4 linked regions of the Homo sapiens genome follow. The protein of the gene in region 4 interacts with the protein of the main gene of each other region in a biochemical or structural test. Each region holds a gene or a part of one and is shown on either strand. Other genes may lie near its edges.

The links. The genes of interacting proteins can lie anywhere in the genome.
Region 1: the proteins of DLG2 (region 4) and RCN2 interact in a test that uses a peptide from one of them, tested with the Homo sapiens proteins (one large-scale study listed by IntAct).
Region 2: the proteins of DLG2 (region 4) and GRM5 interact in a test that uses a peptide from one of them, tested with the Homo sapiens proteins (one large-scale study listed by IntAct).
Region 3: the proteins of DLG2 (region 4) and DGKK interact in a test that uses a peptide from one of them, tested with the Homo sapiens proteins (one large-scale study listed by IntAct).

What each region holds. Positions count from the first base shown.
Region 1 is NC_000015.10:76,948,741-76,952,210, reverse strand, and holds part of RCN2 (reticulocalbin-2 isoform a precursor), read right to left. Parts: intron 3,142-3,470; coding exon 2,989-3,141; 3' UTR 1-2,988.
Region 2 is NC_000011.10:89,041,593-89,045,490, forward strand, and holds part of GRM5 (metabotropic glutamate receptor 5 isoform a precursor), read right to left. Parts: intron 1-3,898. UniProt on the Homo sapiens protein: G-protein coupled receptor for glutamate. Ligand binding causes a conformation change that triggers signaling via guanine nucleotide-binding proteins (G proteins) and modulates the activity of down-stream effectors.
Region 3 is NC_000023.11:50,383,436-50,387,333, forward strand, and holds part of DGKK (diacylglycerol kinase kappa), read right to left. Parts: intron 3,152-3,898; coding exon 2,923-3,151; intron 1,390-2,922; coding exon 1,285-1,389; intron 830-1,284; coding exon 733-829; intron 1-732. UniProt on the Homo sapiens protein: Diacylglycerol kinase that converts diacylglycerol/DAG into phosphatidic acid/phosphatidate/PA and regulates the respective levels of these two bioactive lipids.
Region 4 is NC_000011.10:83,467,516-83,473,084, forward strand, and holds part of DLG2 (disks large homolog 2), read right to left. Parts: intron 5,263-5,569; coding exon 5,212-5,262; intron 4,213-5,211; coding exon 4,111-4,212; intron 1,859-4,110; coding exon 1,686-1,858; intron 1-1,685. UniProt on the Homo sapiens protein: Required for perception of chronic pain through NMDA receptor signaling. Regulates surface expression of NMDA receptors in dorsal horn neurons of the spinal cord.

The DNA of each region.
Region 1 (3,470 bases), on a different chromosome or scaffold from region 4:
GATATGTTAACAGTTTCATCGATTTTAACAAATGTACCACTCTGGTAGGTACTATCTCATGACATATAGGATAGGATAGTGGGGGAGGCTGTACGTATGTGGGGCAGGGGACATATTGAAACTCTCTATACTACTTTTTGCTCAATTTTGCTGTGAACATAAAACTACACTAAAAAAAAAAAAAGCCTATTTTTAAAACTGCAAAGGAAAGAACTAAGTAAGGCAAACATGATATGCTAGCTTTTCCTCTGAACGTCCTGGCTTCCTTTAAATTTATATCATAATCTAGACATCATTTTCTGTCCTGCAAATTGGCCCAATCAGAACTACATATGAGCCAACATGTGCACATCCCATTCAATTTTCCCCTTTGAAGTTGTACCTGAACTCAAATAATGGAAGTCATTAAGTCCTTCAGGCAGAATCAGCCAATGATTCAGAAAGTCTCAAACTATTTTTACTCTCATGCTCAAGGATAAATTCAAATTATCCTAATTATATTAAAACCAAAATAAAAGCTTTATTTTAAAAGTCTTATTTAAAATTCAAATCTAAAAAAAGCCTTAAAATTTTCTATTTTGACTCAGCAGTAGATATAGCATCTCTGTTCAAGCAGATGATTCTTTTTCTCTGCATGCTTATTAAAAGCCTATTGTTAAATGTGAAATCTTCACTCAGTCACAGCAGGATGGGCTCTGCTGTGGTTAAAAACAAAAAAGCACAACCAAATCTCAGTGGCTTAACATAATTAAAAGCTTATTTTTTGATCATACAAAGCCCACTGTGGATCCAGCTGACCTACACAGACTCAAGATCAAAGCCACTTTCATCTTGTGGCTGCACCATTTCAGCTGAGGCCTCCTGCACAGTGCTGTGGCAGAGGAAAAGGGTTTGTCATGAGATAGTCTGATAGTGACACACACTACTTCCACCCATGTTTAACTGGTCAGAACTAGCCATCGCCTACCTACAAGAGGGCTGGGAAGTGTAGTTTTCTTTATGCTAGGAAGGAAAGTAGTACAGACATTGCATTTCTGCAAAGGATTGAAATATAATCCATATCTGATGATCTATTCTGGCATAGATTTTGGAGAAGCTAGAGAGAAAAACAAATAGTTAACTAGTCAAACTGGTGATTTCAAATATGCCAGCTTCAGTGAGTCTGACAAATGACAGATGAGTGATAGTGGTAAATCTGTAATTCTAAAACTGCTATAGCCAGACATATAGTGTAGGTTAAAATGAAAACCATGTAGATACCCAAGCAAGCAGTCATTAAGGTGTGGAAGCTTACAATTTGCAAGCACACCTCACATCAGCAAAGATGCGGCAGTAGAGAGGTATATAGGTGCAGTCGATTCTATCAGAGAAGAGTTTCATGTCTTCTCAAATAGTCATAGGTACTTGTTGAGCCCCCAGTGTGCTGTATATGAGACAACTTTAGGCTGGAAAGTGATTAAGAGAATGCATAGCTGACCTCTTCACCCACAAATAAAAGTGATTTAAAGAATGAAAAACTAGAGGCCGTGCGCGTTGGCTCACGCCTGTAATTCCAGCACCTTGGGAGGCCGAGGTGGGCTGATCATGAGGTCAGGAGATCGAAACCATCCTGGCTAACACGGTGAAACCCGGTCTCTACTAAAAATACAAAAAAATTAGCCGGGTGTGGTGGCAGGCGCCTGTAGTCCCAGCTACTCGGGAGGCTGAGGCAGGAGAATGGCGTGAACCCAGGAGGCAGAGCTTGCAGTGAGCCGAGATAGTGCCCCTGCACTCCAGCCTGGGCCACAGAGCAAGACTCTGTCACAAAAAAAAAAAAAAAAAAAAGAATGAAAAACAATCTCTGTACATCAGAACTAGAAAAAAATTAATTCCTCCCTTCACTTTTCCCTATCCCACCTCCACCAAAGTTAAATAAGTTGACCTGCTGAATTAGGTTAAAATTGATTATCATGCTTATCAAGTATGATTTTAATTTCAGTAAAATTGATACTGAGCTCTACTGTTGATAACTGACCAGCTCTATTGGTAATTCCAACCTGCGTTACTCAAGATTATTTATAGCCCCAAAGAGCAAAACCACATTTGCTACAACACCAATTATTAAAATGTGTCAGGTGCACATTCAATTATATTATAACATGATTCTCTTATTTAAAAAAAAAATAAGAAAATGCAGCAAGAATAATTTGACAGTTTTGGGAACTATCCACATAAAGGAATGGATGAGGCAAGATAATGTACAATACCACAAAACCTATGCTAAATTCAATATTTATCTGAAAGTTAAAGAAAAGCAAACAAACATATACAAAGGACATTTCATTTTTAATCACTCAAAAATGAAAAAGGTTTGGACAATGTCAAATTCCACTCACCATAATGCTATAGTTATACATTAAATATAATTACTATCTATACATATGCAAAAATATAAAGTTCTATTTCATACAATAAAACCCTTTATAGAAACCATTTTAAAATTAAGCAGAACTTCTCAACATTAATATGTGAGGTCTAAGTCCTTCTAAAGGTTTCTTTAAAGGTTTTTAAACAAAATGCTAAACCTAAAAACATTGTCCTGTCAGTTCCCAAATTAAATCTACTTAGAACAAAAACAAAAATTTATAGCTCGGTCACATACTACTTAAATAATATTGTTCAGGCATCTCTAAAATCCTCCATGTTTTCAAGTATGGAAATAGAACTCAAATATTCCACAATACAGTACTAAACAGATGGAGTATTTAGGAAAGACTTTGTTGTCATATGGCACAATATTAATATTTTGTTGCTTCAATACATTTTGAAATAAATATCAGATTTTTGTTTTTTTTTCCTAAAAGACCAAAATTATAATCTACATTAAGATAATTCTGACTGTGGTTAAGACTTAAGAGTGTAAAATACAACATCAATATTTTATCACAAAAGTAAAGCTGGTAACAAATTATAAAAGGAGCCAGTACTCTACTGAGACAGGCTCAGAGATTAAAGCTCATCATGATAGAAATAGTCATCATGGAGCTGTCTGCCATAATCTGTGGCTTCACTGGTGAGAAACAAGTCCGGGTTTTCCAGAATCTCTTCTTCAGAGAGCTTTTTGTCACCATTCAAATCCATTTCATCAATTAGATGAAGCGCCTTCAAAATAAAACAAAAAAGTGTCAAGTGTAATAAGTATTTTCAGCAAGATGTTCACAATTTAATGTGATTTGACTTGTCAAAATCATCCAGGTGTACAAGTACTCATTATTGTTTAAGTATCTAAAAATGTTACACGTTGTAACCAGGTCCGTCTACTGCTTTTCCCATTATCTCCTTTCTTCATTTCTGCTGGGTTCTGTCTCTCTCCACTCAAATCCAATCCAGGATATATCAAGGCAATGAAAAATTATTATAACCTGTTTTGAGTCCCTGTAGGTAAATACAAACTATTATTCTATTCACTGTACTCTCAAATTAATACATGA
Region 2 (3,898 bases), 5.6 Mb from region 4:
TTATTTACTGAGTCCATAGACTGTTCCTTCTGGAAGGGAAGAGGAGGGAATGCCCCTCTAAACGCTCTTTCCAGAGCTATCTGTATTTTTTTCACTGCTAGCAATGAAGTTTCTGACAGTGATATATGAATATGAAAAACTGTTTCTTTACAATTAGAGTTGCCCACTGTGTTTCCCAGATTACGGATCCAGATCCAACTTACTAAAGAATTCCCCTAAAAGTTTCTGCATCTTCTAAATTGTATATATTGTTAAGTCAGTGGTAACCAATATAATTATACAATCAATCCATAATTTCAAAGATTTCTGGGGATCTCATGTTTTCAGAATTTTTGTGGAGCAAAGGAAAATCTTTCAGAGTTTCCGCAAACCTTCGATACGACCCAGGAAAAGGAGCACTTCATCTAATTTACAGATCAAGAGCAAATTGATCATGCTATTTCTCAAGGCTAATTTTTATTTTTATTTTTTGAGACAGTTTTGCTTTTGTCACCCAGGCTGGAGTGCAATGGCATGATCTTGGCTCACTGCAACCTCCACCTCCCAGGTTCAAGCAATTCTCCTGTGAAGGCTAATTTTTAGATGAATTATTTCATTTGTGGTCCCTTCTACTATTTCAGATAGTTATTAACACTTTCAGCCAATTGTTTAGAAATATTGGTGCCACTGAGATAAAGGGAGAGTGAATAAAACAATGCAATGGAGAGGTAGAAAAATGGCAAAAAGGAACCTGACTAATAATCTCCAGCAATGTTTTGGAAACCAAGTTCTGGACAGAAATCTTGAGTTCCAAGACACAACTCTGCAACTAATTATCTGACAAGCAAGGTAGAGTTATGTGACCTTTCTATTTTAGTTTCCTTAACCGTAAAATACAGAAGATTAAATGCTGGCCTGAGACACAGTGTTAACATTCTATGGAATGAATAGTAATTTATGTGTCTTTATTATTACCATGATCATCCCAAAATTTGTTTTAACTCTCAGCACTGTTCAATTCCTGGAGAAACAAAATAAAGTCCTTTTAAAAATTATTCAGTAGCTTCCACAGTACCATTTATTATTTTTCCAAGGTAAATTGTCTTGTGTAATGATAATTAGTAGAAATGCTGAGATGGGAAAAGTGTACTCCCAGTTTTTAGAAGTCAAACAAGCATATAGACTATGAATCATACTGAAGTTCCTTCAATCAAAGCTGGATTGTTATCACATTTTTAAGTAAATAACTGATGGGAAGTCATATTATAACCTGAAATTGCAATCTCTAGGTTAACCTGAAGACCATATCTTCAATAATGTATGCTACCAGTACAATTTATTGGTACATTTTTCTCCCCAGAACATCACTGATTTGTTTTTTGCTGTAACAAATTAACATTCCTGTCATTAGACAGAAATAATAAATTCAAGAACCAGTGAAAACAGAAAATGAAGTGTAGCGTGAACAGGATTTTACAATTAATCAAGGGAGTCATTTTGACACCTCATTTTTATAAAGAAGCAAAACTAAAAACTTACAAGTGCCTGCTATTTATCCACATACTATATAGTCATAAATGGTGAGCTACGTACTTCACTAACACAAATTCCTCTATTCAGCAAATAGTCTTTGAGCACATATTATATGATGGGCACTCTAATAGGCCCTGTGGATATGCTGTAGATTTTCAACTAAAGTCAGGAAAACTAGTGAAGTGTGAAATCTTGTCAATCACCCAGGAAGTACAATATAAAATTTTTTTTTGTATAAAACACAATACAATAATTACTTTTCTTAATGAAGTTGAACTAGATCAAGGTAAAGAATATAATAATGAAATATATTCAAGCGCTTAACTATTTGAAACATTCAGACTTTAAGGGAACTATCACATCTCTAGCCACAGAAGTATAGGCAAAGCATTTTAAATATTCTTTCTTGCCCACAGCATATATTCTGTTTTATTTCATATTCGAATTTCAAGAATATTAATGCATGTTATTTTTTTTTTTTTGCTTTTGAAGTTTAAGCAATAGTATCTGATTTGGGAGAAGGGAAGTTAGAGACTAAAGTGAGAGGGATGAGTATGTTTATACTGGACTCCATCCTGAAGGCATTTTTTATTGCTAACAATAATAGTCAGCTGGGTAATGTTGAGGGTTTCAGCTGGGCTCAATTATGTGATTGCAATTAGCTGTGGGTTGGAAAGGCAATTTTGTTGATCTGCATTGCACGCTCTCACATGTTTGAGGTCAACTGGTCTAAGATGCACTCATTTGGAAAACCTGGGTGCTCTCATACTTCACAGGGTGACAATAGGGTTCCAACACAAACTAGGAAGAAAGTTCTCACGTCAACCAAGTGCTATTGGTCAAAGTGTCAGAAGGCCAGTGCTACATGAAAGTAAAAGGGAATTATCAAGTCAAAAGCAAATGATGTGAATACAGAAGCACCATTAGTAGACGTCATCAATGCAATCTGCCACACTGCTAAATGGGCAAGCACCATCAATCCTGTGTCATCGTGGGCACATGTATCAAGGTTTGCAAAAGTACTAAGGCAAAGGACCCTTTACATTTCCTTAGTGCAGAGAGAGTTCTTACTCCATTAAAAGAAGTGATTTTACTTTTCTTCTGAGTCATTGCATATTCCTTTCCTCTGCCCAGTTGAAGAGCTAGTTTGATCTGCTCTTTAAAAAATGCTTTCTTTTTTCTTCTTCTTCTGTTTTATACTATAAATCTCTTTGCCTAGAAGTTCCAGGCATAATTTCTGTGTAATAGAACAAGCCACAGTAAATACCCAGTCACACAGCCTACTAAAGCCATAAATCACAGGAAATAGCAAGTGTAAGAGATTAACATCGAAGCTGAAACCCAGTTTTCCTTGTACACTCCTCTGGAATTCTGTGATGACATACACTTTCTTGAAGGAACATCTTGTGGTACCCGTGACACAGTACGGTTAGGTTTAAGTATAAAACACATAGGCAATTAGGAGAAAAAATGTTTTTTGAAAATAGGACCACATCTTTTCACAGACCTTAATGGTTCATGTGAAAGCATTTGGAAATTTCCATACTCTTCAAGAAAGAGAATATTGATGGAACAAAGGAGAATAATTATAAGAATATGAAGATAAATTATCAAGTACTGGGATTAATTCTCCTAATGCTAGAGAAAATCACCTCAACCCAGTGAGAGGAAGAGACTGGATGATAACTGACACTATCATTTCATGGAAGATCCCACCAAGACTTTCTGAAAAACCAAGTGGGGAGGAAAAAAAAAAAAAAGCATGACCTTAGAGAGTTCCCACAGTACCCAACAAAGCTGTATCCTGTTTGACTCTCACTTTTCTGATCCTGGAGGTGAGTTTCACCTTGTGAAAATTCCTACCATGCCATTCTTGTACTGATAAATCATAAGACTTAACACTACATAACCTCGTTATTCACATACTTGCTTGGGATCAAAGCAAGATAAATATTTCTTGACACAACCACATAAACAGTAAGCAAACGAGTATTTCTTCCAACCTTTGAATGTCCAATTCCAAGGTTTGTTCTCTCCTGAATCCTGGTGGTACAACCTAAATATTTTGCCTGAATTTGGCATTGCAATTTCTATTGTCTTTTGTTTTCCCACAAATAGAATGTTTTCATGTAATTGTTATATTTCAGTAGGTAAATTATGTATTTAATATAGAGCTTAAAGTGTATGTATATAAAAATTATGCATAAAATATTCCACCTCATTTCTTAACTTAGATTTCTTCTCAGAAGCAGCAACTCTTAGTAGTTTTGCTCTTCTCTGAGAACAATTCTATGAAGATCCAATCAAATTGTTTGCATAAAAACCCCTTTTAGAAAAAATAAAATGTTATATATACAGAAATGCCCCTTGTTTTATTCACCTAAGA
Region 3 (3,898 bases), on a different chromosome or scaffold from region 4:
GGAATAAAAATTGTTTTCTTAAATAAATTATTTAAGAAAACATAAATAATTTCTAGCTGTGTCCTTTTGAGAAATTAAATGGATACAGTTTAGCTGTTTAATCTTAGATTACTTTTTTATTCATTACCATACTGACCTTACATCTCTCACATGAGATTTGCCTCCCTCAACCACAGTCCAGAGATTGGAGTTTCTCTAACTAATGTCCAAACTGATCTTCTTAATGGAACTCAGAATGAGTGAGTGTGGCAGAACTTGGCTGCTGCCGATATTCTAAAGAGGGAGAACTGGTGAGACAGATGTCCTTAGATTTGCTGCCTAGTCCCCTAGTGACCATTTTAGTTTTTAGTATCTTCAACCATTTACTGTTAAGGGCAACAGTGAAAAAAAGCAAGTCCTCTGTAATAACAACAACTAACATTTATTAATTATTTATAATAATAACAATAATAACTGCAAATGCATATAACACTTAATTATGGGTGCCAAGCACTACTCAGTGCAAGTACTTTTCATATATAAATGTAATAAATACAGCAAACCCATGATGCAAGTTCTACAATGGTCTTCATTTTACATATGAGAAAACTGAGGCTCACACTGGTTTAGTCACTTGCGTAGGTGACACAGCTAGTAAGTAAGAGAAAGGATTTGACTATGGATATCCTAAGATTGTGCTCTTAACAAGAGAAAGAAAGAAGCCATTAAAAGGTGATAGAGTTAAATACTTACATAGATTCAGGTGTAAAATGTAAGTGATCCAAGTTAAGGTTGTCCAGGTCCTCACTTTTGAGAGAAGATATAGAAGACAAAGTGCCACGACGAGAACCTAGACACAAAAGACATCACTTGGGTGACGGATACAAACAAAAAAGCCCTTTCCCCTCACTTGTATTTCGCCCTATTTTCTCTGTGGAGGCAGGGTCAAGCTCAGTGACTTTCTCCTAGATAATATTAAGGGTTCTAATTCCAAAGAGGGATCCTCTTGGATGGATAGGGACTTCCACTGAGAGAAGAATAAAGCTGGGCTGCTTGCTTGCTGGCAGTGAAAACAACTTCAAATCTTGTATTTCATCAGGCCAGCCTCTTCAATGTTCCTAATGGGGTCATTACTCTGGACATTGGCATGGGATCTTATAGTGTGAGTTTCTGGGAAAGACGGAGGGGTATCTACTGCAGGATTATGGCTAAAAGAGGATGCATAAAAAATACATATTTATTCTTTGGGAGCTAAACAACAGTGACGAAGGCTAGAATAAGGGAAGAAGACAGAAAGATCCTTACGGCGTCGTGGGCTTGTCTGGTTAATATCTTCTGGGTCATCTTCCAGGAAGAAAGTTGAACTAAAGTTCTTAACAGATATTGTCTGTCTGCTTTCCTCATCCAGAGCTATAGAGAAAAGTGGGAGGAAGGAAAGCAAAAAAGAAAGGAGGAAGGGAGGGAGGAAGAAAGGAGGGAGGGAGGATGGAAGGAAGGAAAGATTAATTACACTTATTGAACATTTATCGAGCATCTATTTTGTTTAGTTAGTGGGTAGATGATGGAGACTCCCATTCGACCATCACGTCTCCTCCATGATACTGTTTGTAGTCTCAGCTTGCTTACAGTGTTGCTGTTTTTTCATATTCATGCCTGAGCTTTCTTTGTTTTACTGGTTACTCTTTTTTCTCTCACCCAGTACATGTGGTTGTGAGTAGAAGCTTGTGGCTGTGGATTGGGGTATCAGCATGGGAAACTCTCTGCTCTTCTACCTCCATTCTATTAGTTCATTTACTTATGTGGCTTTTGTCTATAATTGAGCCTCTAGGACTGTGCCACTCTTTCACTCTAATGTCTCACTCCACACCTGGAACATTTGGGAAGTCTCTTTCCTTTCACCAGCCAAATGTTGTATAGCTGAGATGCCCAGTCTCAGCCTGTGTCAAAGCTCATAGGTTCAATCTCTACCCCTACCAGGGAGGTATTTTCCTATCTCATAGCCACAAGCTACACCTCTAAATCTAACATATGTGTTGATGGAGCAGACTGAGGGTTGGTTGCGACAGTTATGGCTACATCCGTTTAATCTGATCCACACTGCTTGGAAACTAATTATAGAAATAGAGGCAAATTGATTGTTTAATCCTTCCACTGTGCAGAAGGGAGATTTTCTTTCTTTCTAGGAAACTTGGCTGAGGTTGTACGTGAAGGTACCAAGGCAGGGCAAGGCACCATGGCTAAAAGTCAAGGGCCAGCCAAAGGGACTTCCTTGCTGCATGGGACTTCTGCTCAGTTCCAATAGTTCAGTTAGAATACACTCATTCTTATACCACCTTCTGATCTGTTTCTCAAAGTATTGTGGGAAAGAAGTGGTCAGCAAAACATTCAATGAAGAAACTGAGGGAGTTGAAGAGTTTTCATTCTGAGTTGGGAAGTTTGCAGACTGTCGTGAGTTCTGAGCAATGGTAATTAATGCTAGAACTGTCAGGACCACTCTCAGGGCCCTTGTGCCTGATTAATCATGTGCAACACATGCAGAGTTGAACACCATTTTCTTTCTAAAATAGTCATAGGCTCAGTGGTTGGAAAGAAACAGGAGAAGGAGGAAAAAAGTCTTATGGCTGGTGGTGGAAGCTGATAGAGCTTTGAACCAGGTCACTTAGCATCTATTAATATAATTGTATAGGATGAGTGTTGGTTTCCAAAAATGAGTAGCAGGAGTTGACTGTCTGGGAGGTAGGAGGAGCCAAAGGGGCAGCTTAGCAGGACTGAGGCTTTTCAAATCAGTAGTCTGAATACTGACTTTGTATACAATATGAATGCAGAATCTAGACTTTTTGTAGCAGAGTCAGAGAGCAAACCCGGAGTCAGTGAGGCCAGTAAACCATCCTCTGGAACTTTTTCTTTCCCCTACCTCAGTCACTACAACCCTGGCCACCTTACCTTGTTCAACTTGAAATATGATGAGTTTCAAGGATTTCTGGAGACTCTGGGCCTTTGTAGCCAGCTCCAACTTGCACTTGGCTATGTGGTCTATTTGAGGAATGAAGGGCTTCCTATCTGCCTTGCTGCTGTCTGCATATTCTGTAGCACTTTTTTCAGCAGAAGTAGCTGCTGCCTCCTCAGCCAGGACATCGATCAGGACACTGAGCCTATCATACATTAAGTCACTCTATATAGAAAGGAAGGAGACAGGGCATTGTTATGAGGGACCCATGCTTGAGAGGACAGAATGAGGAGTGGTGGTGATATGGGGAAGGGTAGGGAGGGGTAAGAGTTGTCCATAAATGCTGAGCATAGAAAACCACATGTGAGAAGATGAAGTACTTAGCAAAAGAAGTAGGTGGGAAGATGTGATGAGATAACCAAAGGGTGTTAGGAGATCAAACACATATCATTTGTTTCTGAGTGGCCCCATGCATCAGTGTATATAGCTGAGTCTTTCTTGTGTCAAACGGGCCTATAAAACAATGTATAACATGCAAACTTGAGGAAAGACAAATATTTCTGGATTTTCATGGGCACGCTCCTCTGGATATGAACGTGTCCCTGCTTGGGTGCTTGGTGTGTGTCTTTGTATGTGTACAGGCTTGGGGACCTACATCTGCTGCATGATTTAAGGCCTTGATTCTTAGCTCCATCACTTAATAGTTTGCGATCTGAGGCAAGTTTCTTAACCGCTTTGTGCCTCCATATTCTAGGGTAGTTGTGAGGAATAAATACATTAATACATTAAAAACAGAACAGTCCTTGACACAGAGTAAGTGCTATATAAATGTTGGCTATTGTTGTTAGAGAGGTAAATGTGAATGTATTTGTAGTGTGTATTCGTATGTACATACTTGTAAGCATGTTCTGGTGTACAACCATGCACATACCTGCTTGATGTACACTTGTGTCTAGTTGTGGGCAGATGCTT
Region 4 (5,569 bases):
AGGCGGGTGGATCACCTGAGATCAGGAGTTCGAGACCAGCCTGACCAAAATGGTGAGACCCTGTCTCTGCTAAAAATCCAAAAAGTTCACCAGGCATGGTGGTGGGCACCTGTAATCCCAGCTACTTGAGAGGCTGAGGCAGGAGAATCACTTGAACCCAGGAGGTGGAGGTTGCAGTGAGCTGAGACCGTGCCATGGCATTCCAGCCTGGGCAATAAGAGTGAAATGCCATCTCAAAAAAAATAAAAACTATATGTATATATATATATATATATATATATATATATATATATATACACACACACATATAAAATATATAATTAAAACATATATATATATATATATATAAATTAAATGCGGGTTAAATGCCAAGAGAGAAAGGCTTGCATGAGGTATGTAAATTTCTTGTTTGTTAACAAATAAAAATGCTATTACATTATAGCACACCTCATTTAACTTGGCTTCCACCACAATGAGTGCTCAGAGCAAGCAGCTGCTTTATAAAGCATTTCTGGATATGCAGATACATTTGCCACATCATATTCTACCTCCTGGAGAGAAATGTCCTCATTACCCTGAGGCTAGAATAACTTTATGCAAGAAGAGAAAAAAGGCACTTTATGCAGATAGGAACAATACTAAATCAATAATAAGGGCTAAAATCTCATCTATAATGTTCACATGAAAATGAATACAGTCCAGTGAATACTTGAAGTCTTCTTATCTGAGAAACCCACTAAGATGGTTCAAGCCGTTATTACTTAGGTAATAGATTTCAAGTTTTCTATCTGTGAAGTGCAGCAGCCACATAACATGTATAAATGCTGGTTGATTATTCACCAGTCAGAACATTTCAAGTTAACAACATGAACAAAGAGGAAAATAGGTGCAATTATCCAGGACAGTTTGACTAGAACCAGTATTCATTTAGTTGATAGAACTGAACTTTTGAGAGGGAGGAAAATAGATGCAACTTCTTAGTGTATTCTTAGATAGACATCAAAATTACTTAATTCTTTAGCGGTACATTGAGAAAGGTCATGGCAAATCAAATCAACCCAACAAATATCTTCTCCTATGATACTGGTTCTCTGTGTTCACAGGAAATAGGATCCCTCTGTAGGCAGATTGTGTAGCCACACCCAGGTGCCTTCCTATGGTACCCTCTCTTGAACATTCTTCTCTTTTCCATGCCCCTGAAGTTACCAGCAAAAAGATAATAGCAGCATCTACACCTCCTCTAAGCTAGAACTTCTGCGAGCAAAAGGCTGGGCAGCCCTTCTCATCTATCTTCTCTTCTACCATGAGGATGTCAAGTTTTCAGAGAGAGAGAAAAAAAATAACTTCCTCTAACAAAATAATTCAGGAATGCTATCCCCTTGGTTTACAACTAAAGTAGTAAACCTGCCTTAATAAAATCAAGGTTGTGTATTGGGGCCTCAGATAGTGAGTCAAAGACAAAGCCCTCTTCCTACTTTTTCCAAGTCAGTGAGAATACTTTATTGAAATTAGAACAAAGATTAATGACATTGCTCTAAGGTGATTCTCTGCTTGGATGTTTTAAATTATTAAATCAAAATTTACAATTGCAATCAAGAAAGAGTAATGACCAAAAAAAAAAAAAAATGCAGTTTGCAACCTAGAAACCTTCTTCAGGGGAGGTGTAAGAAGATTGGTGAACATACTCTTTCTGCTACAAATCTCACAGACTGCACACTGGTTCCATATAAATTGTCATTGTACTGGCCGGCTTCTATAAACTTGTGCTCTTGGATATCTTTCTCCATTTGTTCTCTGGAAATGACAAAGTGATAGTCTCTGCCATCCACCTCGTAGTCTCGCTTTGGCCTCGTAGTATCTTTATAAAACAAAAAATGATAAAATTAAGGTGCATTTATACCCATAAACTTGCTTTACACCTATATTCTCCACCACATCCTCAACATTGATATGTAGAAATATGTAGTATGAAGAAATATGACATAGTAACAGGTACTAGTCTTACCCTCCCACCATAAGCAACTAAAAAACTGGACAAAATATATGAAACAACTGTTTTCAGATATCAGACAACAGGAAGTACAGGGCTGTAATCTTTGAGAAAAGAGAAACATATGAGAGAGCATTCACCCCACCTCTCTACCTAGAGGCCATTTCCAAATGGAGAGTTTAGACATCACATGGTGCTAGAAGACACGGGAGTTGAGTCAGAACCCATGGAGATCCCAGAAAGGCCACATTTTAAAAGGTTACTCTAGACTTACTCTACACCCATCTTCACAAAGTCTAAAACCATGTCACAAATGGAAGAAGCTGCTGTGTCAGTAAATTATCACCTGTCAGAACAAAAACTTAACATTCTATAAAGGACCATAAAATTCAGACTCTCAACATATATAAAATAAGATAATCACAGTTAGATAGGACTAAAAATCAGCAACTCTAACCATTTCACCTAAATTTTTTGGTAAGAAGAGAAGGGGAAAGCAATCTAGCAATATGAATAAAAGCTGTTAAAATATTTTTAATCTTTGACTCACTTATTTTTTCCTAGAAATATGTTTTTAAAAATGATCAAAACTTCAGATACAGATTTATCCTTAAAGATATTCATTATATTATTTTATAAGTAATAATTATAACACAATTACGATGATATTTTTGTCACAATTCATAATAGTGAAAAATAGGGAAAAACCAAAATGTTCATAAAGAATGATTAATTGGGATATAATAATCATTTGAAATAGTTATATAAAATTTTAAATAAGCAAAAAAATCATCACAGAGAAAAAATGCATGCATAGAAAGAATAGATGGAAATGTACAAAAATATTAACAATGATGTTATCTCTGGGTATTGTGTGGGATTTTGTATACTTCTAATTTTCTCGTTTAACTTTCTTTTTAGTGTTTTTGAAGTTTTGTACAATGAACATCTATTGACTATCACAAAATGGTTCTATTAATTCAAAAAAGAGAGAATATGCAAGGTGAAAGGGAAAGCAGAAAGAATGCTTAAGTACCTTCTGTTTTCTTTCTCTCAAAAGTGGAGGAGCAAGCTGGAAGCTTGCTGTAAACGACCTGGAGTTTCATTTGCTCCTTCCTGTCTGAAGACTTTCTCAGGATATGTTCTATGGCAGGATCTCTTCCCAGAGCCCTTGCTGGGAATTGTTTCATGAGATACAGCAATCATCCTAGTCTTTTGGCCATGTACTGGACACATACAATTCCTGCTATTCTTAAGTATCTCATGTAAAATTTGCAGTACTGGAATGTTAGAGACACTTGAAAGCATCAGGCTTAAAACACATAGAATGGAAGAGAAATATTTGTTGGTATCAGATGTAAGAGCTCCATTATCTAATAAATTAAAATTTCCTGATGGACCTGTCTACATACGTAGAAGGTCTGCATGCATTTCTGTTTGACAGAGTCGGGGTGTAGACGGGGTGAATGAGTGGAGAAAGTATGGTAGGGGTGGGGAGGGGAAGAGGCAGAGCAGTTAGAATCTAATAAGGCTACAATCAGAGGGACCAGAAGCCTGATGATAATCTATAATGAGAAGAAAGTAGTTTAAAGTCTGTAATGGCCTAGAGGTCAAATTGAAGTGTTACACATTTTCTTGTCTTCACCCTCCCTAAACCTGGGACTGTCAACATGGGAAAGCCTATTGGGTTTTGGGATTGACATATGGCCCTAAGTCATCCTGAGAGGATTTTAATATATGGCTTTGTTTCCGATCTCTTCCATCCTATAAAAAATAATGTTTCAGTGGCATTTTGATCAATCTATGAAAACATACTGATGCCTATCATAAATCCTATGCTGTTTTAAATGGTTGGGGGCCACAAAAATTCATCCTGCCTTTTAAGGGGCTACAATCAGTTTAGAGAAAACATTATTATTTTTATTAAATACAGAATGACACACGGCAGCATAAATGAAAAGTGTTAGGCAAATAAATTAAATAAGGCACTCAGCTAATCGGAAATGGTTGGTATTTGAATTACTGGAGAGACTACTGGAGGATGGAATTACATTTTACCATCTCATAAAGAAATCCAAGCTCTTTTTGTTTTTCCTAGAGGAAAGAAAAATGACACTTACGAGGCACACAGGAGCCAAATTTATCAGGGAATTCAGATATCAAGTCGTCATTGATCCGATCCTTCATGGGCCCCAGGATAATCACCGGCCGGGTGTAGTTTACTGCAGAATGGGAAAGGAAGATGTAGGTAAAGAGAAAGAGTTGGAAACAACTGCAAAACTGTCCTGCAAGGGTGATTCTTAATTGCCAGACAGTAAGAGATGCTAAGGGCATTACTTCACTGGATAAATTACTCATACAGCCTTGCATAGGGAAATTGATGTTTAACACTCAGGAGATTGGCAGTGCCTACTTTCTGGAATCTACTAGCAGGGAAAGGCAATTGCAGTATCTGTTGATGAAAAGAAACATTTGGAGGAGTTTTGCTTACTCTCTGGCTCTGCCTACATAATGTCAAAACAACTGAATTTAGTCAACTGAGTGGGAGAAAAAAGAATCCAAACCAGCTGTTTGGCTATTGTTTAGATATGACTATAAAAAGTAATTGTTAGTAGTAATAACATCTTATGTTTTCATGATTTCTTTTCCCCAGATCAAAATACTCTCTATACTTTGCTACAGTTTCTAGATTTCCTTGTATCTGGGATTAGAAGGAACCTGAGAGTTCATTGGGTACAAGTCCCCATCTGATGCTTGAATTCTCTCTGCAGTATCCTTGTCAGTAGCAATTAGCCTCTGTATAAATGCCTCCAGGAAAAAGCAGCAGCTTACAGATAGCCTACATCTTAGGCAGATCTGCTAGAAAGTCATTCTCAATACTGAGCTGACATCAGTCTCTCAGGAGAATTTATTCACCAGTCTCGTAGCTAGTGCTCTTTAGGTAATTTGAATGTGTTCCTTCCCATTGAGGACCACTCATCTGGAGGGCTGCATCCTTCTCTTAGGTGCTATTAGTGCCCATACTCAGCAGGAAGTTGTCTGTTTGGTGATAGGGTCAAAGAGAGAGAAAGTGAGAGACAGCGTAAGAGTAAGGTACGGTCTCAAGACAACAGAGCATTAAGCCGAGTTTATTCTCCTTAGTCCTTCACTCTTTCCCTCCTTCAATGATGTCACCTCTTATGGCCCAGAAATTAGGAATGAAAGCGTGCTGGGAAACTTACTTTCCTGCCTTGTAACAGGCTCATAGGAAAGAATGAGGTCTTCTTGTCCTCCTGAGAAGAGAAGGAAAGAAAACCACAGTGAACTAACAGTCATATATTACAGAGACAAGCCCTGCTCTGAAACACAGGAAACAGACACAGCTCAGAGTTAATTCTCCTTGCTCTTTCTCCTTGAACCATTCAAAAATAACTTCATCCTCATAAAACTCTTTAGCACCATTTTAGTATCAGATTTTCACAGTCATAACTCTAAGTAATAACTGGTTGCTAGCTATTTGCTGCAGGGCAATGACCTGTGAGACTTCTTTCTGTCTGGCATTGAGAATGGAATGCCATGGCCTCTACACCAAGCATTACT